Regions from separate parts of the Homo sapiens genome. Here all the other regions are linked to region 4. The links come from fine-mapping of genetic effects on plasma protein levels. Region 4 holds a variant in brackets. A gene starts in each other region. All regions are shown on their forward strands.

Region 1 (2,746 bases), not on the chromosome of region 4:
GGGACTGCAGTTGGGGCCGTCCTTGGGTTTCCCCAGGGCTCAGTGCCAGTGTGCGGAGGCCCACACCAGGAAGTGAACAATGATCTCCTCTGGCCTCGCCCAGCTGGCTCTGGTTTCCTAATCCCCGGTCCTCCTGGCAGGGGCCACACACTGAGCTTCCTCCACGTGCCCAGGTCCTGGCAGGGAGCGCAGACCCTGGGGCCTGGTGCTGGCGGGCACCGCAGGAGGGCGGGAGGGGCTTCGTCCCAGGCCCTGGGTCTGGGCAGCAGGTCAGCCAGGGAAACAGGCTTGGTGCTTTGGGCCCCGAGTCTCTATAACTGTTGGGGTGAGTCCCTCCCCACTGCCATCATGCTGCCGGCATGTCCCTGGCATGTTCAGGCCAAAGCCAGGAACTCAACTCAGGGCCCCTCTCTATTTTCAGGAGGAGAAAATTGTAGAGAGAGGGGAGGGCCCCCAGACCTCAGTTTACCCACTGGCGACACAGGGGTGCCTGCCTGTGCCCTCCCGGGCCGGGGCAAGCAGTGGTGGGCCCAGTGGTCTCGTAGTCTGGGGTCGGTGTGAGTTCCGGTTCTCCAGGCTTTTTTCCAGACAACTGCTGGGATTGGTGGGCGAGACCAAGGCTCATCAAAGGCACAGCCTTGGGGGCAGGATCCCCACCATGAGTCAGAGGTAGTTCTGGGGAGCCTGGGCAGGCTGTCACCTCCTCAGCTGTCAGGCCCGAGGTCCTCATGTGGTCCCCAGGAGAAGGGGCAGACGGCCACTTCCGGCCACCAGCCAGCTCCCTGTGTGCCTGATTCCGTAACATGTCCCCTGGCTGGGCATGTACTCCCCAAGTTCTAATTACATGTAACTGCAGAGAAGGGCTCAGCCTGGGAAAAGGATGGGCATAGGGGGTGGTTGGGGGCTGGGGCCTCTGACACAGCTCCATGAGCCCGGCCAAGAGTCCCACACAAGTCAGTGGCCCCCCCGGACCCTGAAGGATCCCACATCCTCCCTGCCCTCGGGGAGGCCCCTTTCTGGGGTCAGGCCTGGAAGCTGCCCCAGAGCTTGGGCCCCAGGAATGGGTTGGTCCTCCCAGCGTAACGTGAGCCTGATCAGGCCTGGGGACCTGCTCAGCGGGTGTCTGGGGGCCCATGGCGGGCTAAGGAGCCTGACCAGACTTGCTTCTGGCAGGACACCCCTCCCCCGGCCACCCTGGGCTCGCCCCTCTAGTAGCTGCATGTGTTCCCCGGGTGTGTGTTGGCATTCAGGCTACAGGGCTGCCTCATCCTGAAGAAGGCTGCGTTTACCCAGGGAGCCATAAAGAGATGACCTCCGATAACCTGAATCAATATTTCCCCATTGGGGCTCGGGCCCCCGCAGCTGTCTTCTTGATCATCTGGCAGATGCCACACCCACCCTTGGCCCTCCCCTGCCTTCCTGCCCTCCTACCCTCCTGCCAGGACATATAAGGACCAGACCCCTGCCCCCGGGCGCAACCCACACCGCCCCTGCCAGCCACCATGGGGCTGCCACTAGCCCGCCTGGCGGCTGTGTGCCTGGCCCTGTCTTTGGCAGGGGGCTCGGAGCTCCAGACAGGTGAGAGAGCAGACACAGGGGTCTGGGGCCTGGCAGAGTGTCCTGGGGGCAGGGCGAGGCGGGCGGGCAAGTCGCGTCTGGGAGGAGGAGCTGGTCCCAGAGTGCAGCCTGCGCGGCTCTGCTGAGGCTCCTGGCCCGGGTTGGTCCCTGGAAGCCCCCGGCCCTGCTGACTTTCAAGGAGCTGGAAGGTCGGGGCTCCCCTGCTATTCCTTTGGGGTTGACTGCCCGACGACAGTGTGGGTCTTGGGGCCAGCACCAGGTGGAAACAGCAGGTCAGGCCCCAGTGAACTGGGTCATTGTCCATAGGGGAGGAAGGGGTGGCCAGGATCCCACCAGAAGGCCCCATTCTCAGGTGGCAGAGACCCTTGAAGAGTTGGGGCAGCACAGCCCTTGCTGGGGAGCGGGGTGCCCAGAATGCCCTCTCCTACATCCCGCTTGGCACCCGGCCGCACTCCTCACCAGGCCGGGGGTAGAAGCCCTGAGACCCCTGTGGTGGGGTGACCAAGGCCCAGCAGAGGGCCCGAGGATAGGAAGGAACCTTTCCCGGCCAGGGGCCCTGTGCTGGGCTCGAAGCTGCTTCCAGGTGCTTCTTCAGGGGCCTTCTCTCGAGGGTAGCTTGGGCAGCCTTCCCCCTCCGGGGCCACTCACCCCTCATTCCCCGCTGCTCCCTCAGAGGGCAGAACCCGAAACCACGGCCACAACGTCTGCAGCACCTGGGGCAACTTCCACTACAAGACCTTCGACGGGGACGTCTTCCGCTTCCCCGGCCCCTGCGACTACAACTTCGCCTCCGACTGCCGAGGCTCCTACAAGGAATTTGCTGTGCACCTGAAGCGGGGTCCGGGCCAGGCTGAGGCCCCCGCCGGGGTGGAGTCCATCCTGCTGACCATCAAGGATGACACCATCTACCTCACCCGCCACCTGGCTGTGCTTAACGGGGCCGTGTGAGTGTGGTCGGTGGCACCCCTCCCACATCCTAGCAACGGGGGCTGATGTTTCCCAAAGGGATATTCCTTGTAGCCCTAGAAGACCCCTTCCGCCCCAGCACACAGCTCAGGAGAACAGCCTTGAGGTTTGGGTTCAGGTCACTAATTCATTCAACAAACACTGATGAGCCCCCACCATTCCCCCCATAGGCAAGGGGTTTCAGTTATCCCTTTGCCTGTGT
Region 2 (2,746 bases), not on the chromosome of region 4:
CTTCTAGTTTATTCTCTTATGTTTTCTGAACACTGTCATATCATCTATAAGGGAAAGTACTAGCACATCTTCATTCTCAATTTTATACCTCTAATTTATTTATCTTTACTAACTTTATTGTTTGGTATCCTCAAAGAAAAGTTAAATGATTATAATGCTGGTGGTCATTTTTATTTTATTTCTGACCTTAAAGGAGTGCTCTTAAGATTTCTCCATTGAGAACAATCTGGCATTTGGTTTTAGAGTAACACATCTTACAGTACATATTCACGTATATATTCTTATAAACATTTAATATACTTTTAAAATTTCCAGAATGATTGCATTCTTGATCTATAGTAGCAATTCCTACCATTCCCTTTTATATTAATATATCTGGAAAATTTATTAATTATCAAATGGCTATTGGGTAAATAATATGACAGGAAAAAAGAGTGGAATCATGCTGTAGGATGTTTAATGTGGACCATGCCAGGAACAAGCAGTACCAGTGACCTACTATGAAGCATATGCATCTAATTGTGTAAATAATTGAGATTTTCAGATGCATTACCTATTAATAAGGCAAGAATTTTTACTATGTGTGAATAAAACTTCAATAACAGTGGTTGAAACAAGAGAGTGGGGTGTTTCTTGCTCAGGTAAAACTCAGATATAGGAATTCAAGGACATCTCATGGCTCCACAGCCCTCTGGGACTCAAGCCACCTCCAGCTTTGCATTCTGTCATCCCTAAGATAGTGCCTTGCGTTTAGGGGTCAGAATTGAATTTCAATCATCACATCAATAATCCAAGCCACAACATGGAGGAAGGGAAGAGGAATTGACATGTGCCCTTCATTTTAGGACATGTTCCAGAAATTGTGGATACTATTTCTATTTATGTCTCTGTGGTCCACACTTAGTCACATGGTTGCTTGTGTAAAGCAAATTGGAAATTTAGCCTTAATTCTGGGAGACCATATTCCCAGCTAAAATTCTACGATTCTTTTACTAATAAAGAATGAAAAATAGATATTAAGAATTAACTAGCAGGTTTTGTTCCAGCAGGCTGACTTTCATTATTGAATTGAGCTAATTAGATATTCTTTAAGCTTCTTTCTTGAAGCAGAACATTGTATTACAACTGGATCACACATATTTTTAGTACACATTTGAAGATTATTATAAATCCTAGTATTTCCATCTCCAGCTATTTAATATTTTCCATGAAATATGTTAAAGTATTTTTATTAGAGGGAAGCATTCTAAAGCCATTTGTGATGTATTTTGTAATCACAATGCAGCCTGGGAAACTTCTGGAAGGTTTTTGTTGATAAATAGTTTTATCTAATACATTATAAACAAGCCTAACCTTGTATTTAGGTTCTGACACAGTATTCTGACGCTGAAGAGTCTGGGAAATTTAATTGTCCTAAATGTTAGCTAATACATCAATTTCTTCTACATTTTCACCCTATCCAGGAAAACAAAAAAGCAAAGTGTTGATATGCTGTGAGGTTAGCAAATATCATGACTTCCTCTTCCATTCTCCAATAAAAGCCCTGCTACGATCGCAATCCCCAGCTCTGGCACAATGGCTTTTCTTCCTTCCTGGGTTTGTGTACTAGTTGGTTCCTTTTCTGCTTCCTTAGCAGGGACTTCCAATCTCTCAGAGACAGAGCCCCCTCTGTGGAAGGAGAGTCCTGGTCAGCTCAGTGACTACAGGGTGGAGAACAGCATGTACATTATTAATCCCTGGGTATACCTTGAGAGAATGGGGATGTATAAAATCATATTGAATCAGACAGCCAGGTATTTTGCAAAATTTGCACCAGATAATGAACAGAATATTTTATGGGGGTTGCCTCTGCAGTATGGCTGGCAATATAGGACAGGTAAGAATGACTCTTGTTTTCATTGTAATGATCTACCGATAGACCTATGAAGTATTTGGGAAATTGGACTCTGTATATACCCTACTATGTTTTTAAAAATTGATTCTTTATCTTGTTCTCTTTTCCCTTATAATCATTGTTTTTCTACCTATCCTTCTCCTTATCCACAAATCCTTCTTTTGTGGGTTGTGTGTTATTATTAGAAGCTTCAATGAGGCATAAGACATAGTTATCAACTGTGAAAAGACATCACATCTCATCTATTGAGCATTTCACAAATATTTGTTGAAGTTCTACTAAGTGCCACACTCCTTTCTAAGCAATGAGATGAACAAAACAGTCAAGGGGATATACAAAGTGATGTCCAATTAGTTTGAATTTCTTGAAGTTCTAATTATGATATGAGGTTATAAAGAAGCATCACATTGTTCATGAAGATCTTTCTCTGTAAAATGTTTGCTTCCTCTTGGAAATAAGGTACCTTACAGTGTATAGACAGAAGTTACATTTTGGGATAAAATATACATGAATTGAAAGATACTTTTGTTCTGGTTGATAGAAGCTCATGAGAAAGAGTGGTGCCTGTTGCCCACTCCCTGCTGATGACACAGCCAATAAAGAAATTATTGTGTGTGAGAGAGAGGTTAAGAAAAGAGCAATTTCATTTGGAAGAAAAACAATGATTATTTTCTAATATTTACATAATGCATATTACAGGTGAAACACCTTTGGTGCTTTTTCTCACCTCACATCACAACCTTATAATGTAGTTAATATTATTATCCCCATGTCATAGATGAGAAAACTAAGGCATTAGAGGTTATTTAGATAAAGTCAAGCTAGTAAGTGGTAGAGCAGGGGTTTGTTTTG
Region 3 (2,500 bases), not on the chromosome of region 4:
GCTGTGCAGAGAGATAAGAAACATACAGTTAAAATCCTTTCTGGGGACTAAATAGGCTCCCCTCCCTCATGCTCATGGATGGGCATGACCTTGAGTGCAGAGGTTGCTTGTTCTCCCTCACGCTGGGAAGTAAACCAGAGGATAGGCCTAGCTGCCTTGGGAAAGGCTGTGCATTGACCTTCATCTCCTCCAGGCCTCCCCCTAGCAAGGGGAGCATTCATTTTGCAAAGCACTGTCTTCAAAATGATGCCTTTTCAACAATTTTAAAGGTCACGTATTCACATGATGATTATGCAGAGTTTGATGAAAAGACATTAGAGGAAGCGCTTCGAAAGCAAGACGGTGAGAGGAGAGGAGGGAGCCTTTTAAATGTCTGTGTTCTCCCACCAACACACTGAGCAGGCCCTGCCCTGCCGCCCTGACCTACTATGAGAAATTCACACCCCCTGATGTTGGCACTCTGTGCAGTGTCTGTCCCCAGCCCACGAGGAGGACATAGGCCGCACGGTTTCTGGGAAATCAGACTGAAAAAGTTCACGCACAGTTGGAAGTGTGAAACCCCATTTCGTTTGGGAACTGACATTCTCAGGCACCTCCGCAGGTGCGAAGGGCAGATGGAAAGCGGGCTTGAACCAACTCCAGGTTAAGTGAGAATCCAGCTTCCTGCTCATTCTGAGTTCTGGGGAGTCTGGGCTGAACCCCCAGGTGTATTTGTATGTGCACATTTATGTGCCAGCTTCCTGCACGTGTGGGTTCAGCCTAGATTCCCAACAAGCTACTTTCTGTACTTTCTGTTTCCTTTGTCACTCTCCCCAGCATGCAGCTCACTGTGTTCACAGGCTGGCCGGCCAGCCTAACCCGCAAGCCTGCAAAGGCAGCGAGCAGTCATTTAGAAACCCCCAAAGACACTTAACAGAAAACAAATACAATCAAGGCAGCAGCTCCTCACTGGCTGAGCAGGTCATACCATCTGTCAGGTTCCCACACTCTCTCCAATGAAGAATGGGGCCTATTGAGTCCCCACCACCTTCCATGCTTTGGGGTTGGGGAGTGGGCATGGGTTGTGCTCTGCAGACCCTCTCTGCCACCATCCAAGCTCACCTTATTAAAGGCATTCTTCACCTGCTCCACGGCCTTGCTCTTGTTTTCACAGGGAAGAAATCGATGCTGTGGAAGAAAAGAGAAAGTGTTGGTGATCCTGGCTTCCAGCTCCATGTCCATCACACTTAGGGGACAAGCTGGTGGCATCATGAGGAGGCCAGATTTATCCAAATGCCTTGCCTCACAGCTCCCAGAGAGAACTGAGCCCTGCTTCCATGGCCCTGGGAGTTAAATGTATTTCTCCAGGACTCACTCCAAGATGTTTGCAAGGCTTGGATGACAACCCAGGTCTTGGGATTCCTTCCTCCCCCAGAACTCTACAGTATCTCCTGCAGTGCTGAGCGAGGCATTCTTCAGCCTGTCCTTTTCTGCCTCTCTCTCCTGTTCCTCCCCGTCAGTCACAGCCACCGAGGAACACTTCTAAGCATCTGAGGAGGGAAGCTACTGGGACCAAACCCTTCACATAGCCTTGTCCTACAAATAGACACCAACTGATTTTCCAATATTGGTGACAGAACAGGGGAAACCATTAGTAGTGAGGGCATCATTTCAGTTGGAGAAATAAATTACCTGGAGGAATTACTCATAGACACTAGCCTGGGGATGAATAGCCCCCTTGTCCCTTCTAAAATGCCAGGGGAAATCCTGTCAGTCAATTGGGCCCTTCTTAGAGCTTTGCTTTCAAAACATTGAGATTAAAAGAGGTGAATGATGTTTCCTCTGCTTGGGAACCTTAGCTCCCCGCCCAGGGTCTAGTTACAAAGAGGCAGTGGAGGCCTGACTGAAGCTCTGGGCTCCTTTTATGAAGAGAGAGGGGAGTAGTTAATAACCCACAAATGACTCACAAATAACAGGAAAGCTGTTTGCAAATTTCACATGTAAATGCCTAGCAGCCACCCCCAACGCCTGCTCAAAGAGAAATGAGCAAGAGATCTGACTCCAGGAGTCTTTCCTCATTTACAGCTAGCTCTGCCAGTCTGTGTCTTTGCTGTGTCTGTGGATGTGAGTGTCCCTGCTGGTCTGTAGGAGATGGTATTTTGGGGGCAGCTGCAAGGGAAAAAACTGATCTGCTACTTACACAGCGCCGTAGCCTCAGCCTGAGGGTCTTCAGGTTCTCCCCCAGGGAGTTCACATGCGCCTTGATGTCTGGGTCTTGGTTCTCAGCTTGGGGCATCACCTCCTCCAGGTAAAACTGGATCATCTCAGACAAGGCTTGGCAACCCAGGTAACCCTAAGGGCAGGAGCCAAAGGTGAGTGAGAGATTGGCGGAGGTGGCTGGGAGGAGGGGCTGCTGCAACTAGCTTAAGAGGACAGCTTGGTTCTAGCGATCCTCCTTCACCAGAAGCCTCCCCGAAGGGACTGAGCCCTTTGTAAACCCTCTGGCTGCTGGATGTGCTGA
Region 4 (2,746 bases):
GATATATGGCAGCCTCTCCTAGGAGACAATGAAGTCTTTGTCAGTGACCTTCAGGAGGGTAGATTGGGGGAAACAGGTGATTGGTGGGGGCGATTTTCAGGCCTCTGAGCCCAAGCTAAGCCATCATATCCCCTACGACCGGCTCATATACGTTCAAATGGCCTGAAGCAACTGAAGATCTACAAAAGAAGTGAAAATAGCCTTAGCTGATGACATTCCACCATTGTGATCTGTTTCTGCCCCACCCTAACTGATCAATATACTTTGTAATCTCCCCCACCCTTAAGAAGGTTCTTTGTAGGCCGGGCACGGTGGCCCAAGCCTGTAATCCTAGCTCTTTGGGAGGCCGAGGCGGGCAGATCACGAGGTCAGAAGATCAAGACCATCCTGGCTAACACGGTGAAACCCTGTCTCTACTAAAAATACAAAAAAAAATTAGCTGGGCGTAGTGGCGGGCGCCTGTGGTCCCAGCTACTCCGGAGGCTGAGGCAGGAGAATGGCTTGAACTCGGGAGGCGGAGCTTGCAGTGAGCCGAGAAAGAGCCACTGCACTCCAGCCTGGGCGACAGAGCCAGACTCCGTCTCAAAAAAAAAAAAAAAAAGGTTCTTTGTAATTCTCCCCACCCTTGAGAATGTACTTTGTGAGATCCACCCCTGCCCACAGAACATTGCTCCTAACTCCACCGCCTATCCCAAAACCTATAAGAACCAATGATAATCCCACTACCCTTTGATGACTCTCTTTTTGGACTCAGCCCGCCTGCACCCAGGTGAAATAAACAGCCTCGTTGCTCACACAAAGCCTGTTTGGTGGTCTCTTCACACGGACGCATGAGACATTTGGTGCCGAAGACCCGGGTCAGCGGGACTCCTTCGGGACAGCAGTCCCCTGTCCTCACCTTCACTCCCTGAAGAGATCCACCTACAACCTCAGGTCCGCAGACCAACCAGCCCAAGGAACATCTCACTGATTTTAAATTGGGTAAGTGGCCTCTTTTACTCCTTCTCCAACCTCTCTCACTATCCCTCAACCTCTTTCTCCTTTCAATCTTGGCACCATCCTTCAATCTCTCCCTTCTCTTAATTTAAATTCCTTTCATTTTCTGGTATAGACAAAGGAGACACATTTTATCCGTGGACCCAAAACTCTGGCGCCGGTCACGGACTTGGGAAGGCAGCCTTCCCTTGGTGTTTAATCATTG[T/C]GGGGACGACTGCCTGATTATTCACCCACATTCCATTTGTGTCTGATCTCCGCGGGGACACCTGCCTTGGTCATTCACCCACATCCCTTGGTGGCAAGTCAATTGCAGGGACGCCTGCTTTGGCTGCTCACCTTACCCCTTCTCTCCGTGTCTCTACCCCTTCTCTACTTTCCTGAGGGGCAAGCACCCCCCACCCCGTTTCCATTTTCCTGGGGGGCAAGCACCTCCCATCCCTTCTCCACTTTCCTGGGGGATAAGCATCCCCCACCCCTTCTCTCCGTGTCTCTACCCTTCTCTTTAAACTTGCCTACTTCACTATGGGCAACCTTCCACCCTCCATTCCTCCTTCCTCTCCCTTAGCCTGTGTTCTCAAGAACTTAAAACCTCTTCAACTCTCGCCTGACCTAAAACCTAAATGTCTTATTTTCTTCTGCAATGCCGCTTGACCCCAATACAAACCAGACAGTGGTTCCAAATAGCCAAAAAATGGCACTTTCAATTTTTCCATCCTACAAGATCTAAATAATTCTTGTCATAAAATGGGCAAATGGTCTGAGGTGCCTGACGTTCAGGCATTCTTTTATACATCGGTCCCTCCCTAGTCTCTGTTCCCAATGCAGTTCATCCCAAATCTTCCTTCTTTCCCTCCTGCCTGTCCCCTCAGTTCCAACCCCAAGCGTTGCTGAGTCTTGAATCTTCCTTTTCTACAAACCCATCTGACTTCTCCCCTCCTTCCCAGGCTGCTCCTCACCAGGCCGAGCTAGGTCCCAATTCTTCCTCAGCCTCTGCTCCTCCACCCTATAATCCTTTTATTACCTCCCCTCCTCACACCCAGTCCAGCTTACAGTTTCTTTCCGTGACTAGCCCTCCTCCATCTGCCCAACAGTTTCCTCTTAAAGAGGTGGCTGGAGCTAAAGGCACAGTCAAGGTTAATGCTCCTTTTTCTTTATCCGACCTCTCCCAGATCAGTTAGCGTTTAGGCTCTTTTTCATCAAATATAAAACCCAGCCCAGTTCATGGCCCATTTGGCAGCAATCCTGAGATGTTTTACAGCCCTAGACCCTGAAAGGTCACAATGCCGTCTTATTCTCAAAATGCATTTTATTTTATTACCCAATCTGCTCCTGACATTAAATAAAGCTCCAAAAATTAAATTCCGGCCCTCATACCCCACAACAGGACTTAATTAACCTCGCCTTCAAGGTGTACAATAATAAGAGTAGAGGCAGCCACGTAGCAATGTATTTCTGAGTTGCAATTCCTTGCCTCCACCGTGAGACAAACCCCAGCCACATCTCCAGAACACAAGAACTCCAAACGCCTGAACCGCAGCTGCCAGGGGTTCCTCCAGAACCTCCTCCCCCAGGAGCTTGCTACAAGTTTTGGAAATCTGGCCACCGGGCCAAGGAATGCCCGCAGCCCGGGATTCCTCCTAAGCCATGTCCCATCTGTGAAGGACCCCCAATGAAAATCAGACTGTTCAACTCACCTGGCAGCCACTCTTTTGTTTAGTTTCTCAGTTCATACAAAACCGCATCCAGGCCA

Direction of the effects. Positions count from the first base shown, and alleles are read on the strand shown. Strength reflects both the effect of a copy and how common the allele is.
With allele T in place of C in region 4, the plasma level of the protein whose gene starts at base 1,475 in region 1 is higher (moderate association).
In carriers of allele C in region 4, the plasma level of the protein whose gene starts at base 1,564 in region 2 tends to be lower than with T alone (moderate association).
For the plasma level of the protein whose gene starts at base 2,046 in region 3, allele T in region 4 goes with a higher level than allele C (weak association).

Evidence for each region. PIP is the chance, under the fine-mapping model, that this variant and not a neighbour inherited with it causes the effect. Protein levels are from antibody-based Olink assays in UK Biobank. Linkage for the fine-mapping came from a reference panel and not from the study's own genotypes, which makes the PIPs less certain.
Region 1: MUC2 starts here. The variant in region 4 is fine-mapped to the plasma level of the MUC2 protein (UK Biobank, PIP above 0.99).
Region 2: it holds the start of C6orf58, and the variant in region 4 is fine-mapped to the plasma level of the C6orf58 protein (UK Biobank, PIP above 0.99).
Region 3: it holds the start of IL19, and the variant in region 4 is fine-mapped to the plasma level of the IL19 protein (UK Biobank, PIP 0.99).

The regions. Positions count from the first base shown.
Region 1 is chr11:1,073,400-1,076,145 of GRCh38, forward strand. It overlaps MUC2 (mucin 2, oligomeric mucus/gel-forming), which reads left to right and starts at 1,475. Exons shown (of 58, transcript NM_002457.5): 1 at 1,475-1,578; 2 at 2,252-2,522. The coding sequence starts at 1,503. LOC107987157 (a long non-coding RNA gene) reads right to left here and starts at 35. Exons shown (of 5, transcript XR_007062544.1): 1 at 1-35.
Region 2 is chr6:127,575,611-127,578,356 of GRCh38, forward strand. It overlaps C6orf58 (chromosome 6 open reading frame 58), which reads left to right and starts at 1,564. Exons shown (of 6, transcript NM_001010905.3): 1 at 1,564-1,876. The coding sequence starts at 1,576.
Region 3 is chr1:206,768,728-206,771,227 of GRCh38, forward strand. It overlaps IL19 (interleukin 19), which reads left to right and starts at 2,046. Exons shown (of 7, transcript NM_153758.5): 1 at 2,046-2,351. It overlaps IL10 (interleukin 10), which reads right to left. Exons shown (of 5, transcript NM_000572.3): 3 at 2,180-2,332; 4 at 1,102-1,167; 5 at 1. RefSeq lists enhancers at 537-646, 2,207-2,396.
Region 4 is chr19:5,846,788-5,849,533 of GRCh38, forward strand. All of the region lies in intron 1 of FUT3 (fucosyltransferase 3 (Lewis blood group)), which reads right to left. It overlaps LOC101928844 (a long non-coding RNA gene), which reads left to right and starts at 680. Exons shown (of 4, transcript NR_110740.1): 1 at 680-981. The variant T/C (reference allele first, on the strand shown) is at 1,202.